Homo sapiens: one gene and its partner. Each later gene encodes a partner of the first gene's protein in a complex. Each region holds a gene or a part of one and is shown on either strand. Other genes may lie near its edges. The genes, in order: GET1 and CAMLG.

Region 1 (8,784 bases):
GCCGAGCCACCATGCCAGGCTGAGGCATCTTTCTAAGTGTCTTTGTTGAAAGTGAGAAGACTGGCTTCCGTTACTCTCAATATGTTTATTTCTGTGATCACCCTTTTGTAATTAATCTCTGGTGTCCACCGCCCACTGTTACCCAAGTGAATGCATGCCTCTCCCCACCTGGGCTCCGACCCTGGCAGGGTTCCTTCTTGTCTTGTATGTCTGTCTCCCTCACCCTACAGACCCTGACTCCTGTGTCAGGCTGCCCTTTCTTGGGGACCCCTGTATCACCATGCCTGGCCCTGATGCCTCTTGCCAGGGTGCCATTCTGTGGGAAGGCCCTCTGCACTGAGCTTGGGCACTGACATTCTGCCCTGGGCCCCTGCCTCACCACTGTTACCCTGCACCTGCACCTTGCTCTGCCCCGTCTAATCTAGGACTGAATTCTTCTGGGAGGGGAGAGGTTACATGTTCCCTGTCACTGGAATAACAGCTCTGGTGATGGAATTGGTTTTCATTTCACAATTGCAATTTTATTTATAGTGAAACAGACAAACATTTGTATTGGAGCAAATTCATGGGCATATCTGTAAAAGGAAAAATATAGTTTGAATAGCAATTTGAATATGAGTTTTTTTTTTTTTTTTTTTTGTGGTCGTTATAGGGAGCCGAAAAAGGCAGCAGAGGCTGGCTGTGTAGGTAGAGGGCAGCTTGCCCAGTTGGCAGAGGTGGGAGTAGGATGTTGGAGGAAGGTGTACCGGTTCTGTCTGGCCAAACCCATGCTGGAGTCACCTCAAAAGCAGTGGCAGGGGAGTTCCCTCAAGGGGCTGCTCCAGACTGCCTGGAGATGGGGCTGGCTTGGATTCCAAAGAAAGAAGCACTAAACGCCAGGGTGATAAGTCCACAGCATTCATGACGGGAACTTACAAGAGCTGCGGCAGTCCCGGGACAGCCAGTGAGAGAAAGGGACATTTACCTAGGGCTGTCTGCCACCCGGGGGTTGGGGTATGGAGTGTATGTGGGAGTTTAAGGACTTTGTCATGGTGGGGCTAGTTTGTAGGTGTTTCTCAGCAGGATGAATCTCCCAGTGTTCTCCAGCAACAGCCTTTGCTCTTTATCAGTCCTGGGAACGTTCACGGCCGCAGTTTGCATTCAGTCCTGCAGGGACGCACACAACTGGCTGGGTCACAGAGTGGTCAGGGCATAGACAGAAAGTAGCGGGGGACTGGGGAACCCTCCTGTGACCCGTGTTGGAAGGTGCTGATCCCCGTTGTCCGCCCTGCCAGATGTCCAGGGTGCTGCAGAAGGACGCGGAGCAGGAGTCACAGATGAGAGCGGAGATCCAGGACATGAAGCAGGAGCTCTCCACAGTCAACATGATGGACGAGTTTGCCAGATATGCCAGGCTGGAAAGAAAGATCAACAAGATGACGGATAAGCTCAAAACCCATGGTACTGTGTCCCTTGCAGCCTGGAGGCTTCATGAGAGCGGATGAATAGAGAAGTCTGTATGTGAAGATTAGTAGAATACATACTTTGCTTCTTGGATGTTCTGAATATTGATGGAAACTTAAGTTATCTGGAGGAAACTCAGTAATAAGTATTACTTTCCTCTTATTTGCTGGTGAACCTTTGCTTTCTAAGCACAGAAATATCTAAGATCCTCTCAGATTTTCCTCAGAGCCAACTCTTTAAAATTTTAAGCTAACTCTTAAAAATTGTAGGTTTTCATTTTTAAATTCATCACTTTTCTGAGAGAAGCCCAGAAAAAAAGTCTCACAGTGGATTCCCAGAGGCTTTTGTTCCACTCTCTAGAAAAATGCCCAGCAGTGTCCTCTTCTGAGTGTCACCTCCCGGGTCCAGTGTCCTGTGATGAAGAGCGCTTTCTCAGGGCAGCCCGTGTGCTGAGGGACCCCGGTCACAGTGTGTGCACAGTCAGAGAGCTGTCTCTGTGGCTAGGAAAACAGACAGAGGGGCCTGTCCAGGCCCAGGACAAGCTGGACTCCCACCAGGGGTTCGTGTACTGTGCACACTGGGAAATAAGGAGGAAAATTTAGTCCTGTTGGTAAGTGGTAACTGTATTATACAAAGAATCTTTGATTTCATGAGTCGTTTTAAGAGTTTTCAAAATTAAAGCTATTCAAATCTCAATCTGAGTCGGATACTATTTTAAATAATGGCATAATGAGATGGTGGGTGACTTAAAAATTCTATTTTATATTTTCTAAATATGTTGAGCGATTGTTCCATTTATAATCAGAAAGTGTATTATAAGGGAAAATAACATTTCTGTGTATTTGAATATTTTGTTAATTTTTCAGGACTGACATAATTATTTATCCTGTTTTTCCTTTCAGTGAAAGCTCGGACAGCTCAATTAGCCAAGATAAAATGGGTGATAAGTGTCGCTTTCTACGTATTGCAGGTAAGTGTGCTAGAGCGTCAGCCGGGTCATTGGAGTTGGTGACCCCGGCCTCCAGAGCCGTGTCTGCAGATCCAGGGCTGGGAGTTCGGGCTGTTCCACCTTCAGCTGTCGTGTCGTGTGTCCCTGCCCACATGGAGCTCTAAACACTCTCGGTCTCTAAGTCAGACTAAAAGGAAGCCTTTCTCTTGAGGAGAGTTGTTAAAGTTTGGGACTTTTTGGCAGATGGACTGTGAAGTAAGTTCTCGGAGAGCTTTCACCATGCCTGCATCCCAGTGTGGTTTGAAGGGCCTGGTGGGATGAAGCGAGAGGCTTATAGATGACATCAGTTTTTTCTGAGATCTTCAATACTTTTGGCCCTTACTTGTTACCTGGTGTACTTCATGCACGCTCTCCACCCTCCAGGTAGAGAACCAGCTTTTCCGACTGGAATTGGCTTCTAGCCTCCCTGCCTGGGGCTTAACCCTCATAGCCTCTCCTGGAGCTGTTGGGCTCTGCTCTGCCCCGAGAGTGCAGTTGTGCTGCCCAGACACCTTTAGCAGCTGCCGTAAATATCCGAGTTGCAGTACCATGTGATCCGGTAACCAAGGCAAAGGATTCAAGCCCACCCCCAAAAAAGCTTAGTTTGGCAGGGTATATTGAAGGAAATTAATTCTGAGGCACTGTCATTTGCTAAGAGATAAGTTTCCGCAGACAAAGGAGTTAGGCCAGCAACCCTCTTTCATGTCTCTTCTGAGCGGCCTGTTCAAGCCAGGAAGGGGACAGATGACAATCGAAGGAATGCTGTGGGGGGATGGAGGGAAATAAAGCATCCCCCACCATTGAAACTTACACAGGGCTCACCTCTGCGTCCCTTGCTAACACTGGTGTACGTGGGAGAATTCACTATTTTTTCCAAGGATGGCTTTCGTCACTAATAAGGTGTGTTGAGCATACAGTCTGGCTACTCAAACGAGATACTCAGTGAGAAAAGCACACCCGTGTTATGGGAGACTTTGGTTAGTTTATCAGCTAATTTAAATTATGTGTAGATTGTGTTCATCCTAAAACAGTGAAATGCCAGTTCACATAGGAAGGCTCGCCTACTTGTTGGCAGTGTTCAGACATGCTGCTGAGCTCGTCTTTAATTTGACTTTCTCATTCAAGGTTTCACCAAGGGACATTAGTGGCTGTGCGTGCTCATCTGTTGTCTGTGGGGACTGGGTTCCTAGGCTTGAGGTGCTCAGTCTGGAGAGTTTTCCTGGTTTTATTTTCGCATTTCCCTGTCCTCCCTTCTGTGTGGTCGGTTGTGTGATTGGCAGGCTGCTTTGCTCACCAGAGGTGTCTTTACAGGCTGCCCTGATGATCTCACTCATTTGGAAGTATTATTCTGTCCCTGTGGCTGTCGTGCCGAGTAAATGGATAACCCCTCTAGACCGCCTGGTAGCCTTTCCTACTAGAGTAGCAGGTAAGAATTTTCTGGAAGATGCAGTGGAAGAGTGTGAATAGGCTTATGTAGAGGTGTGTGGTAGAAGATTAAGTTAGCCTGACATCCTCCTCACCGTCCATTTAGTGAGCGGGGTTTTGTGTCTCAGCCTCACATGAGGCTTCCCATGAAGAAACTGAGGTCTGAAAAAGTTACTTCACTTGTCCAGTGTCACCAAAATGTTAAGGAGCAAAGCTAGGATTCAGTCCTAGGTCTGTTTCCGGGATCCATGCCCAATACGTCAAGTCTGATACCCCATTGAAACACTAGCCGTAGTTCCAAAATTATGTATCTTTTCAATCCCTATTATGGTTGGCTTCTCTGTAGCACTTGCTGCTCCTGGCTATTCTTTTATTTTTTATTTTTTGAGACTGAGTCTCACTCCGTCACCCAGGCTGGAGTCAGTGGTGCGATCTTGGCTCACTGCAACAACCTCTGCCTCCCAGGTTCAAGCAATTCTTATGCCTCAGCCTCCCAACTAGCTGAAATTACAGGCATGCACTACCACGCCCAGCTAATTTTTGTATTTTTAGTAGAGACAGCGTTTCACCATGTTGGCCAGGCTGGTCTCAAACTCCTGACCTTAAGTGATCCTCATGCCTTGGCCTCCCAAAGTACTGAGATTACAGGCATGAACCACTATGCCCAGCCACGTTCTTTTATTTTTGAAGATAAATTTTTTTTAGATATTAAAAGTAGTACATGTCACTATAGAATGATTAGAAATATAGCTATCAATTAAAAATCCCAGCTGGGTGCAGTGGCTCACGCCTGTAATCCTAGCACTTTGGGAGGCCAAGGTGGGCGGATTGCCTGAGCTCAGGAGTTTGAGACCAGCCTGGCCAACATGGTGAAACCCTATCTCTACTAAAATACAAAAAATTAGCTGGGCATGGTGGTGCGTGCCTGTAATTCCAGCTACTTGGGAGGCTGAGGTGTGAGAATCACTTGAATCCGAGAGGTTGCAGTGAGCTGAGATCACGCCAGTGTACCCCAGCCTGGGTGACAGAGTGAGAATCTGTGTCAAATAAAATAAAATAAATAAAAAATAAGATTCCTATTAGCTTTTAATGCTGTGATATGTTTTTCTTTGCCTTTTTTTCCCCATTTATTTTGATATAGTTAAGGTCACCTGGCACATCACATGTTGTGCCTCCTTTTTACTTTATAGGGTAAGCCTATTCCCACATGTTTTAGTTTGTTAGGGTTAAGTGAAATACTATAAACTGGGTAGCTCATAAACAACAGAAATTTATTTCTCACTGTTCCGGAGGCTGGGGAGTCCAAAATCAAGGTGCCGGCAGATTTGGTGTCTGATGATGGCCCATTTTCCAGTTCATGGATGGTGTCTTCTCACTATGTCCTTGCATGGTGGAAGGACAAGCTCCTTTAGGCCTCTTTTATAAGGGCACTAATCCCATTCACACGGACTCTGCCCTTGTGACTTAATCACCTCCCATAAGGCCCCAATTCTTAATGCCATCACTGTGGGGGGTAGCATATTAGCATATGAATTTTAGGGGGATACAAACATTCAGACCATAGCACCATATCAGTACATTTCTTTTCTTTTTTTTCTTCTCTTTTCTTTTTGAGGCAGGGTCTTGCTCTGTTGCCCAGGCTGGCAGTGGCACCCTCATAGCTCACTACAGCCTGGAACTCCTTGGCTCAAGCGGTCCTCCCACCTTAGTCTCCTGAATAGTTAGGATCACAGTTGCACACCACCATGCCCAGCTAATTAAAAAAAAAAGTTTTTTATAGAGATGGGGTCTTGCTTTGTTGCTTAGGTTGGTCCCAAACTCCTGGCATCAAGCAATCCTCCCTCCTCAGCCTCTCAAAGTGCTGGGATTATAGGTGTGTCACCTTGCCTGGCAAATTTCTTTATTAAGGAATTTTCAGTAGCTGTTCTTCATTTAGATATCTCATTTGCAGATTTTCCTGATGAAGGATATTTATTCCGGTCCTGATTTTTTGCTATTAAAGATAATGCTGCAGCACACATACTTGCTGGTCTTTGGTTGTGATTTGTGATTATGTTAGAGGTGAATACTGTATCAAAAGGAATGACTATTTTTTTTTTTTTTAAGACCGAGTCTCACTCTGTCGCCCAGGCTGGAGTGCAGTGGTGTGATCTCTGCTCACTGCAACTTCCACCTCCCAGGTTCAAGTGGTTCTCCTGCCTCAGCCTCCCCGGTAGCTGGGATTACAGGTGCCCACCACACGCCCGACTAGTTTTTGTAGTTTTAGTAGAGACAGGGTTTCACCATGTTGGCCAGGCTGGTCTTGAACTCTTGACCTCAGGTGATCCACCTGCCTTATCCTCCCAAAGTGCTGGGATTACAGGTGTGAGCCACTGTGCCTGGCCAGGAATGGCTGTTTCAAAGACTCCCAATTTAGCTACCACCCCTGTCCCCTTCCCCACCCTTTCCTTCCCCTCTCCTTTGTTTGACACAGCTGGGCCTAGGCCAGGAGCTCTGCACTGCGGCCAGAGAAGCATCCAGCCACCCTTCCATGCATCCAGCAGGTCCATGGGTCACTCTTGCAGCCTGTCTTCCTGGACAGGGGGATATGTATGCCTCTCCATTATTGGTGGGGCAAGAAAGGCATAGGTAGACATTGCTTTGTTTATAATGCTTTCTGAGAAAGGAAAAATAAATAATCTTACAGGTTTGGTTTTGGAATCTATTAATATCATAAATAGTAATGCACATCTCTCTGGCAGGAAAGGGAAATTCAGCCCAGGGTCCACCGTTCACTGCAATTCCTGCTTAGTAAAGAATACAGCCCTATGATTCTATAGAAAGTGACAAATTCGGGCTGGGAATGGTGGCTCACACCTGTAATCCCAGCACTTTTGGAGGCCGAGTTAGGCAAATCATCTGAGGTCAGGAGTTTGAGACTAGCCTGACCTACATGGTGAAACCGTGTCTGTACTAAAAATACAAAATTAGCCGGGTGTCGGCCGGGTGCGGTGGCTCATGCCTGTAATCCCAGCACTTTGGGAGGTCGGGGCGGGCAGATCATGAGTTCAGGAGATCGAGACCACGGTGAAACCCCATCTCTACTAAAAATACAAAAAATTAGCCGGGTGCGGTGGCGGGCGCCTGTAGTCCCAGCTACTCGGGAGGCTGAGGCAGGACAATGGCGTGAACCCGGGAGGTAGAGCTTGCAGTGAGCCAAGATCGCGCCACTGTACTCCCACCTGGGTGACAGAGCGAGACTCTGTCTCAAAAAAAAAATTAGCCAGGTGTGGTGGTGCACACCTGTAATCCCAGCTACTCGGGAGGCTGAGGCAGGAGAATCGCTTGAGCCCGGGAGGCAGAGGTGCAGTGAGCCGAGATCGCACCATTGCACTCCAGCCTGGGGGACAGAGCGAGACTCCGTCTCAAAAAAAAAAAAAAAAAAAGAAAGTGACAAATTTGAACCTATGAAACATAAACTTCACTTCAGCCCAGCACTGCTCAAAAAGAATGGAAATACTCTCTTTGCTGTGAGTTAAAGACAGCAGAGACAGATGGGGGCAGCACTGCTGGTATGCGCTCTCATGGTGAATGTCTTTGTTTTCAGGTGGTGTTGGAATTACCTGTTGGATTTTAGTCTGTAACAAAGTTGTCGCTATTGTGCTTCATCCGTTCAGCTGAACAGGAGGATGGATACAGCCGCGAGGCTAAAAAACGGATTTCCTCTTCCTAGCTTAAAATCTGATTTACACTGTTTTGTTTTTTAAGAAACAAAAGTGCATAGTTTAGATTTTTTTTTTGTTGAATATGTTTGTTCTTGGACTTTATGAGAGAGTCTTATAAGAATCACGATTTTCTACACCTGTCATTGAGCCAAGAAAGTCCAGTTTATGACACGTATGTACTAGTGAACACCGTCCTCGATCTGTACGAAATGTGAAATGTTTAGGGACATCTCCATGCTGTCACTTGTGATTTGCCCTCTTATGTATTTTGGTCATATTGCCAACTGGAAAGTCAAAATTTTCTAACAACTTTAAGTAAGTTCTTTGAAGACTTAGTGCTGTTTTTAATCCAGTTTAGAAAGTAACTTAATTTTAATACCACTACTAAAAATTCGAAAATTTCTTCTTTAATCACATTCAATATGGTTAAAAGAACAACACTAATTGACATTGCGTGGGCTTTTTCTCCCTTTGTTTAAAATGTCATTTGTTGAGCAAGAGTTGTATAGTATTATCTACTTACTTGAGGCTGTTAATTTTTCATTACAGTGTTTTGTAAATGTATCCACGAGACCATGATGCATTGTTTTGTGCTCAACTTGTGTTTTGTATTTAAAGCATTTTGAATGAAGTGTATTTTATAAGCATTTAATATTTATGCTCTTTAGAATGGAACACAGAAAACAAACCTTATAAGTCCTGATTAATCTGAACCAATAACCTGTGTGGCCTACAAAGTATAATTCTATTAAATGTTCCTTAAAACACTTTTTTCTAATTAAAATCTTTGCAAATGCTTGTGTAACTTCCTGCCTTACAGCTACTTGTTTGCTGTGAGCCACCCGCAACTGACAAGTGGCTGTTAACTGAGTCACCATATCCCAGTAAAGCTGAATTTTCTCACTAGTTTCTGCAAGTTCATATTTGTACTCTTTTGTTTCCTAATGATCTAATAAGTAGTTTGTTGTTATTTTAGCTGATTGGACTGTGAGAAGACAAAGTGCTGTGGTCCTTTATTTATTGTCATGCTGAAGGCCACCACAGCAGCTTTTGGGTTCCACTTACTCAAACACACATGCACGCAGGCTTACCCAGCACCAAGTTTACTTAGCTTTAAGAAAGGACAGAGCAGGGAACGCAGCCACAGCCTGGTGGAGGAACTGGACACCAGCTTCCAGTGTCCGTCACCACACGGGATACATTTTGCCCACAAAGGATGAGAAG
Region 2 (9,687 bases), on another chromosome or scaffold:
TCTTTTTTAGATGTTCACTAATTACATTCTAAATAGGTCTTCACAATTGCTTTATGAATGCCAATTTGAGGGTTTACAACCTAGAGATTATCAAAAAACACTACTATTTTAGATAACTGGTGAGACACTGAGATGGTAGAGGATTGTTTCCTGGGAATTTATTTCCACCTGAAAATTTAACACTCTTACACTCTTAACTAGCTTAGTAGCTGATATATATTAGGCATTCAAATAATTGATGAATGAATGAACAAGCTCAGACATAACTTAGTGAAACTAGAAAGTCCATCCACAATCATAAAAGGTGTCTTTTTATGTTCCCTATTCCCTTCCACTCTTTGTTCAATGCATTTGAATTTTGTATTCTCTCATAAATCATAGTTAAGATTCAATTTTGCATTATACATTATACATACTACTTTAGCATTGCTAGTGTTTGCATAATAGCATATTATTAGCTATTTAATCAATATTTATTATTTTTCTCTCAATATTGGAAATATGAATTAATTCCAAGTTTTCACAGTTATTCATTGAGCATCTACATGTTCATTTTTTTTTTCTTTTTTTTTAGACAAGGTCTCACTGTCACACAGTAAGTGCATTGACAGGATCATAACTCGCTGCAGCCTTGACCTGCTGGGCTCAAAGGATTCTCCCACCTCAGCCTCCCAAGTGACTGGGATTACAGGCTATTTTTATTTATTTTTATTTTTTGTAGTTTTCGTAGAGATGGGGTTTCACCATGTTGCCCAGGCTGGTCTCGAGTGTCTGGGCTCAAGTGATCCTCCAGCCTCGGCCTATCAAAGTGCTGGGATTACAGGTGTGAGCCACCATGCCCAGCCAGTTTTTTGTTTTGTTTTTGTTTTTTCCTTTTTGTGAATATTTTACCTATGTTAAGTTTTAAGTGATTACTATTATAAATCAAGAGACTTTTTTTAGTTCCTACCACATATTATGAGAATGCTAATTTATCATCAGCATGTTATGATTTGGAGCATGGGTTTGTCCTCATGAACGGGGACTATTTCTTTATATTGGTTGGCAGGATTAATCAGTGTGTCATAATTATCACTTCCTCAAATCGTGCTTCTCCGTGGTGACATCCAACTGCAGTATCATTTAAAAGGATAAGATTCTTAGCAATTCAGCCAGGGTTATGGCAAGGTCAGCACAAACCAATTGGTCTGTGTTGGAAGCTTTCTCCCTGAATTCTTCCTTCAAGTATTAGGGGTTTTGAGTCAGGATAATACTCATGTGCAATGATTTGGCAAAAGAGATGAGGCATGAAAATAATTCACTTTATAGGAGTGCTGAAAACAGCAGGTACAGGAGGGCTTCACAAGCCTGGAGAGGCCAAGCGTGGTAGCTCATGCCTGTAATCCCAGCACTTTGGGAGTCTGAGGCAGGAGGATTGCTTGAGCTCAGAAGTTCAAGAACAGCCTGGGCAACATGGCAAGACCCTGTCTTTAAAAATAAAAAATAGGCCAGGTGCAGTGGCTCACACCTGTAATCCCAGCACTTTGGGAGGCCGAGGCGGGTGGATCACAAGGTCAGGAGATTGAGACAATCCTGGCTAACACAATGAAACCCCATCTCTATTAGAAACGCAAAAAATTAGCCAAGCATGCTGGCACATGCCTGTAGTCCCAGCTACTTGGGAGGCTGAGGCAGGAAAATCACTTGAACCCGGGAGGTGGAGGTTGCAGTGAGCCGAGATCGCACCACTGCCCTCCAGCCTGGGTGATAGAGCAAGAGACTTTGTCTCTAAATAAATAAATAAATAAAAAATAGCCAGCTGTGGTGGCATGTACCTGTGGTCTCAGCTACTTGGGAGGCTAGGTGAGAGGATCAGTTGAGCCTGGGAAGTCAAGGCTGCAGTGAGCCCCGTTGGAGCCACTGCACTCCAGCCTGGGCAACAGAGGGAGACTCTGTCTCAAAGAATAAAAAAAAGCATGGGGACTGCCTGAGCAAGGGAGGCCAGAAACCTTAAATTGCCACTCTCCTAGAGTAGCAGAAATCCTCATCAGTGTCACCCTGGGGTAACATCGGAGAGTAACATTATCCAAGGAGCCAAATGATTTTGTCCCAAACCACGGCAACATCCACACATTTATATTAACTTTTTTTTTTTTTTTTGCGACGTAGTCTCCCTCTGTCACCCTGGCTGGAGTGCAATGGCATGATCTTGGCTCACTGCCACCTCCACCTCCTGAGTTCAAGCGATTCTCGTGCCTCAGTCTCCCAAGTAGCTGGGACTACAGGCGTGTGCCACCATGCCCGGCCTGTTTTGCAGTGTTTATAACATACTAAAAGTTAATATAGGCCCGGCGCGGTGGCTCACGCCTGTAATCTCAGCACTTTGGGAGGCCGAGGCAGGTGGATCACCTGAGGTCAGGAGTTGGAGACCAGCCTGGCCAACATGCGGAAACCCCATTTCTACTAAAATTACAAAAATTAGCTGGGCATGGTGGTGCGCGCCTGTAATCCCAGCTACTCAGGAGGCTGAGGCAGGAGAATAGCTTGAACCCAGGAGGTGGAGGTTGCACTGAGCCGAGAGATGGCACCACTGCACTCTAGCCTTGGCGACAGAGTAAATAAATAAATAAATACTGTAAAACAAAATATTCAGTACCATCTAAAATTACATTTATTTCATGAGGTTCATTACTTGGCTTTCAGTTTGTTATACTAAGCTCCATTCTCATTAAGGAGAGGACTATTGACATGTCTCCTATTGAAACTGTTAATTCACTCTGTTTCTTTTAAACTTTGAGTGTTTAAGGGTGTTTAACAACTATACTTGAGAAAATTATTGAAATAAAATTTCTGGCTGGGTCCAGGGGCTCACACCTGTAATCCCAGCACTTTGGGAGGCTGAGAAGATTGGATTGTTTGAGCCCAGGAATTTAAGACCAGCAACATAGAGACCCCATCTCTACAAAAAATTTTTTTTAAAAAATTATCTGGGCTCGGCCGGGGACGGTGGCTCATGCCTGTAATCCCAGCACTTTGGGAGGCCAAGGCGGGCGGATCACGAGGTCAGGAGATCGAGACCATCCTGGCTAACACGGTGAAACCCCGTCTCTACTAAAAATACAAAAAAAATTAGCCGGGTGTGGTGGCCGGCGCCTGTAGTCTCAGCTACTTGGGAGGCTGAGGCAGGAGAATGGTTTGAACCCAGGAGGCGGAGCTTGCAGTGAGCCAAGATTGCGCCACTGCACTCCAGCCTGGGCGACAGAGCAAGACTCCATCTCAAAAAAAAAAAAAATTATCTGGGCTCAATCCTGTAGCCTTAGCTACTCAGGAGGCAGAAGCAGGAGGATTGCTTGAGCCCAGGAGTTCAAGGCTGTAGGCTGCAGTGAGCTATGATTGTGCCCCTGCACTCCAGCCTAGGCCATAGAGTAAGACCCTGTGTTTATAAAAATAAAAATTTGACTCATTATGGAATTTAGAGGAAGTAATTTGCTAATTTCTGAAAATTGTTCTTGAATTTCTTTTAAGCAGTTTCATCAATTCATTCTTTTACTCTTTTTCTTTTGAGACAAGGTCTAGCTCTATCACCCAGGTGGTTGTGGAGTGATGCAATCATGGCTCATTGCAGCAAACTTCCTGCCTCGTTTTAAATTTTTTTAAATTTTTTGATTTTTTTTTTTTTCTAGAGACGAGGTCTCACTATGTTACCCAGGCTGGTCTTGAACTCCTAAGCTTAAGCAGTCCTCCCACCTTGGCCTCCCAAAGCGTTGGGATTACAGGTGTGAGCCACTGCGCCTGGACTCTTTTTTTTTGTTTTTCTGAGACAGAGTTTCACTCTGTCGCCCAGGCTAGAGTGCAGTGGTGCAATCTCAGCTCACTGCAACCTCTGCCTCCTGGGTTTGAGTGATTCTCCTGCCTCACCCTCCCGAGTAGCTGGGATTACAGGTGTGTGCCACCATGCCTGGCTAATTTTTGTATTTTTAGTGGAGATGGGTTTCATCATGTTGGCCAGGTTGGTTTCGAACACCTGACCTCAAGTGATCCACCCACCTCAGCCTCCCAAAGTGCTGGGATTAAAGGTGTGAGCCACCGCACCTGGCCTCCCGATCTCTTTTCTTTGTTTTTAAATAGAGAAGGGGGTCTCACTATGTTGCCCAGGTCAGTCTTGAGCTCCTTGCCACAAGTGATCCTCCTGCCTGGACCTCCCACATGCCAGCCCAGACATTTTTTATAATTCTGTTCAAGTTCAGTTATACGGCTTCCTCAGTTTCAAGGAGGAATGAAATATTACTTGGAAATAATTTGCTTGATGCTTATATCATTGAATATAACACTATAATTCTAATTTAGCTCCTCAAACCCTTTCTGGAACCGTCTTGATTGATCAGGGCTGTGCCTCATCAAATTCTGCACATTTGTTACTATTTGACAGTTATTTCCATTATTTTCAGTTGTGTGTAAAATTGTTTTAAGGAAGTCTAGGGCTCAGAGATCTATGTCTGTGCAGATATGCAGAAGAACTTCCTCTAATACTTTAAAATTATTAACTAGTGGATGTCCCTGGGATTTAACTTTCATCCAATCAAGGGTGAAAGTTCAGTCTGTATATTCTTTGAGCTCCTTATGTTGTTGAATCCAAACCGAAGTTTCTTTTGTTTTCACTTCTTTTTCAGTATTAATATAAATATAGTATTTTATTATCTTCTAAGTGGTATTTCACCCACTTCCTTATTTTGAGGGTGATTGTGTGGCAGGCTTAGTTGCAGGGGGCCCACCCAGTAAGCTGCTTCAAAACCCTCCTCAGCCTCAGGTGTGAACTGGCCATGCTCCCTGTTAGCAAGGGTTGATGGATTCAATTCCTTCATTCATCTAATCATTCACTTAGTAAGTCATTACTGAATGCCAAGGCTGCATTATGACTTTCAAGGGCCCTAAGCTCTTTTGCCTTTGTGGCTCCTTCCTGCCTGAAAACATACTTAAAATTATATTTTATGACTGTATTGCTATTAATGATGACTATAATCCAGACTGGATCCATTACAATATAGCAAATATATTATTTTTTTCTGAAAAAACTTTTTTGAGATGGGGTCTCACTGTGTCACCCAGTCTGGAGTGCAGTGGCCCGATCATTGCTCACTGCAGCTTCAACCTCCCCAGGATCAGGTGATCCTCCCACCTTAGCCTCCCAAGTAGCTGGGACCACAGGCACACGCCACCAAGCCCGACTAATTTTTGTATTTTTAGTACAGTCAGGGTTTTGCCACGTTGGCCAGACTGGTCTCGAATTCCTGGCCTCAAGTGATCCACCCATCTCAGCCCTCACAAAGTGCTGGAATTACAGGCATGAGCCACCGCGCCCAGTCATTTGTTCTGATTTTATTTTATTTATTTCTTTTATATATGTATTTTTGAGACGGAGTCTCCCTCTGTCGCCCAGGCTGGAGTGCAGTGGCATGATCTCGGCTCACTGCAATTTCTGCCTCCCAGGTTCAAGCGATTCTCCTGCCTCAGCCTCCCAAGTAGCTGGGATTACAGGTGCATGCCACCAGGTCAGGCTAATTTTTGTATTTTTAGTAGAGACGGGGTTTTGCCATATTGGCCAGGCTGGTCTCGAACTCCTGACCTCAGGTGATCCGCCTGCCTCGGCCTCCCAAAGTTAGGATTACAGACGTGAGCCACCGCTCCCGGCCTTTTTGTTTTTTTCTTTTCTTTTCCTTTTTTTTTTTTGAGACGGAGTCTCGTTCTGTCGCCCAGGCTGGAGCATCTTTAGCATGCGAGGTGGTCATGAACGACAAGGAGAAAAAACAAGGTGAAGGGGAATGGGGAGTGTTGGCAATTTAGATAGAATGTGCACGAAAGGTTTCAATGGGAAATTCTAATTTGAATAAAAACGCACAAAACGCGAGGAAAGCCTAGGAACACATCAGCCGTATACTTTGCCGTAGAGAAGTTAAGGATGAGGAACAGGCACCAAGAACAAATCCCAGCGTAAGGCTCCCTTTAAGTGCGGCTCCCAGGGTTACGTATTCCCATTGCCTACAGGCGAGGCCGCGGGTCTGTAAACAAGCGACTGCCGCTGCAACCTCCATTTTGCTTCCTGGCACCAAATCTAGGCTGACCTACTTACTGCCATCCCTTTCCCACTCCCGGTTTTCTTTTCTTTCTTTTTTTTTTTCTCGAGACAGAGTCTCGCTCTGTAGCCCAGGCTGGAGAACAGTGGCGCGATCTCGGCTCACTGCAACCTCCGCCTCCTGGGTCCAAGAGATTCTCCTGCCTCAGCCTCCCGAGTAGCTGGGATTACAGGCGCGCGCCACCCCGCCCGGCTAAGTTTTTGTATTTTTAGTAGAGACGGGTGGGGGGAGGGGGGAGGGGGTCACCATGTTGGCCAGGCTACTCTCGAAATCGTGACCTCGTGATCCGCCCGCCTCGGCCTTCCAAAGTGCTAGGATTACAGGCGTGAGCCACCACTCCCGGCCCTGGGTGCTGGTTTTCTTCACCTCCGAGTGAACAGCAGAGGGGGCTGTTGGGTGAGGGCCAGAAGAGTTGGGGAGGCACGAGGGCGTCCAGCGCTGCCCTCACTCAAGATGGCGGCCAGAGCCTCGCGCTTGGTCGCGTGGGGCGGTGCGTGAGTGCTTAGCTCACAGGCTCCGGGACCGCGCTCGGGGGCGGGTCTATAGTGGGAAGGGGACGCGCGCCCTGCGGCCCGGCCTCTAGTCATCGCCCTCGCAGCGGCGGCCAACATCACCGCCACTGCCACCCCTCCCAGACTGTGGACGGGAGGATGGAGTCGATGGCCGTCGCTACCGACGGCGGGGAGAGGCCGGGGGTCCCAGCGGGCTCAGGTCTGTCGGCTTCCCAGCGTCGGGCGGAGCTGCGTCGGAGAAAGCTGCTCATGAACTCGGAACAGCGCATCAACCGGATCATGGGCTTTCACAGGCCCGGGAGCGGCGCGGGTAAGAGCCTCGATTTCCCCTCAGTCTCCCGCCCATCACCTTGAATCTTCAGGGTCATTCTTCCCTCTCCCACCTCCACTCCTCTGACCTTTTTGACCAAGCCTTGCTCTTTGATTTCCTCTCTGTCCCGCCCCTTCGGTGATATCCCAAGTTCTCATCCCTGAACCCCAGGATGTTCCTAGTCGCTCCCCTCAATTTTCCCGGGGCCTCGCCGTGAGATTTTCCCCACCCTGCCTGCAGAGCTCTCACTCCCTCTTCCCAGTTACGTTGAACAGCCCCTTTTTTCCTTAGCCACTCCTCGCCTTTCTTGAAGGGCGCACGTTGTATCCCCAGACTGTCATGTCTACTGCTCCCCTTAGGAAGATGGCTTTCCTTCTTAAGGTTCCAAGTGCTTTTCCTTACAGTGCCTTCTCTAGCGTCTACCTTCTTTTGCCTTTTGCTGTGTAACTCCTGTCCGCCCACATCAGCCTGTCTTTACTGAACTGCCCGCTAGTTCATCCTACGTGTATCAGGGACTCTTGTGCTCATATCCTAGTGTTTGTGTTCAGTGCCGTCAACACTGTCACCTACGGGCCGGCTAGAAAAGGTGGGAAAAGTGAGAGTGAGCATTCTTCAGAGACCCAGCAAGTGCGAAGTGCACACCTGAGAGTTTCCTCTCCTCATGAGGGGATATTGTTGTGATTGATGTCTGGAGCTGCATTTCTAAGGAGAGCGCCTCCTTCCTCCCCCAAACACATGTCCAATGATTTTCTTTAAAAAAAATTTATTTCACGTGAGTATAATTGAGCAATTAGCGCGCCCTAGTGTTATCTAAGTTTCCAGTGTTTCCTTTAGTAATTGGCCTTTAGTCACTGGTCGCAAGCTCCTTATATCTTTGTGACTTTTGTTCTGTAAGGCTTTAGGTGTATAGCTCTGAACTTTTAGGCAGTTCAAATGAGAGGTAAGAAAACCATTTCAAATTCTTCTAGAACAATAGAAGAAACATTTTTCTATCGGGCTATTTATTCTTAAAGCATTATTTATGATCTTACCTGAGGTACTTTCTATATTTTGTTCTTTTGCTTTGAAAATTTTATGTCTTTAAAGGTTGTTTTATTTTTTGAGACAGGGTCTCCCTCTGTAGGCCAGGCTGGAGTGCAGTGGCATGATCATAGCTTACTGCAGCCTCAAACTCCTGGGCTTAAGCAATCCTGCTACCTCAGCCTCCGGAGTAGCTAGGACCACAGGTGTACACCACCATGCCTGGCTAATTTAAAAAAAAATTGTGTGTGTGGAGATGGGGGGGTCTCACTATGTTTCCTAAGCTGGTCTGGAACTTCTGGGCTCAAGTGATCCACCAGCCTTGGCTTCCAAAAGTGCTGGGCTTACAGGATTACAGGTGTGAGCCATTGTGCCTGGCCTTTTTTTTAAAACAAAAACAAAAACAAAACCCCAGAGTAGTGTCTTAAAACTGCTGAAGTGCCTACTAATGGCTGCCTGACTACATAAACAGTAGCTTTGGGATATGCCACACCCTATGCTCATAGGGCACTGGATTCAGAAATCTAATTTTAAAATATAGATTTTAAAAGGCTTTACTGATTTTATATTTTTAACCAAATAAGCTAAGGCAGGCAATGCAATCATACATCTGGGATATATTATCCATAAAAAGTTGGTCTTTTCAGCTTGCTCCATCTCTGAATATCTTTCCCAGTTTGTCTACTAATCTTATCTCCTACCCACAAAGTTTGGGTTATTTCCTCTGCAGAATATTCATTTTGGGTGATACATTTTGAGGGTGTAGAGGAAGAATCCAGCTTTTTTCTTTTTTTTGTTTTGAGATGGAGTCTCACTCTGTCGCCAGGCAGATGCAGATGGAGTGTAGTGGCGCAGTGTCTGCAACCTCCTCCCCCCGGGTTTCAAGTGATTCTCCTGCCTCAGCCAGAGTAGCTGGGACTATAGGCAGCTGGGACTACAGACACACGCCACCACACCCAGCTAATTTTTGTATTTTTAGTAGAGACGGGGTTTCACCATGTTGGCTAGGATGGTCTCAATCTCTTGACCTCATGATCCGCCCGCCTCAGCCTCCCAAAGTGTTGGGATTACAGGCGTGAGCCACGGCACCTGGCCGAAACCAGCTTTTCTTTAATGCAGAATCGGTATTTATTTATTTTGATGCAGAGGCTGCTGAGTTCTAGCTGCAACAGCATATTTTAAAACATAAACATGTAAGGTGTTTGCCAGTATGGAATAAATACATAAGGCTTTTACATTTCTTTTCTCAGAAGAAGAAAGTCAAACAAAATCAAAGCAGCAGGACAGTGATAAACTGAACTCCCTCAGCGTTCCTTCCGTTTCAAAGCGAGTAGTGCTGGGTGATTCAGTCAGTACAGGAACAACTGACCAGCAGGGTGGTGTGGCCGAGGTAAAGGGGACCCAACTGGGAGACAAATTGGACTCGTTCATTAAACCACCTGAGTGCAGTAGTGATGTCAACCTTGAGCTCCGGCAGCGGAACAGAGGGGACCTGACAGCGGACTCGGTCCAGAGGGGTTCCCGCCATGGCCTAGAGCAGTACCTTTCCAGATTCGAAGAAGCAATGAAGCTAAGGAAACAGCTGATTAGTGAAAAACCCAGTCAAGAGGATGGAAATACAACAGAAGAATTTGACTCTTTTCGAATATTTAGATTGGTGGGATGTGCTCTTCTTGCTCTTGGAGTCAGAGCTTTTGTTTGCAAATACTTGGTAAGAAAAGATCTGTAAATTATT

What was found.
Region 2: GET1 (region 1) and CAMLG share a complex: the UniProt entries of both Homo sapiens proteins name them as parts of the golgi to ER traffic (GET) complex.

Annotation. Positions count from the first base shown.
Region 1 is NC_000021.9:39,389,424-39,398,207, forward strand, and holds the end of GET1 (guided entry of tail-anchored proteins factor 1), read left to right. Parts: intron 1-1,274; coding exon 1,275-1,440; exon of another isoform or gene 1,441-2,053; intron 2,054-2,345; coding exon 2,346-2,413; intron 2,414-3,742; coding exon 3,743-3,857; intron 3,858-7,442; coding exon 7,443-7,516; 3' UTR 7,517-8,466; downstream 8,467-8,784. Other genes in the region: GET1-SH3BGR (WRB-SH3BGR readthrough), read left to right, coding at 1,275-1,440, 2,346-2,413. UniProt on the Homo sapiens protein: Required for the post-translational delivery of tail-anchored (TA) proteins to the endoplasmic reticulum (ER).
Region 2 is NC_000005.10:134,731,861-134,741,547, forward strand, and holds the start of CAMLG (guided entry of tail-anchored proteins factor CAMLG), read left to right. Parts: upstream 1-6,687; 5' UTR 6,688-6,760; coding exon 6,761-6,932; intron 6,933-9,202; coding exon 9,203-9,663; intron 9,664-9,687. UniProt on the Homo sapiens protein: Required for the post-translational delivery of tail-anchored (TA) proteins to the endoplasmic reticulum.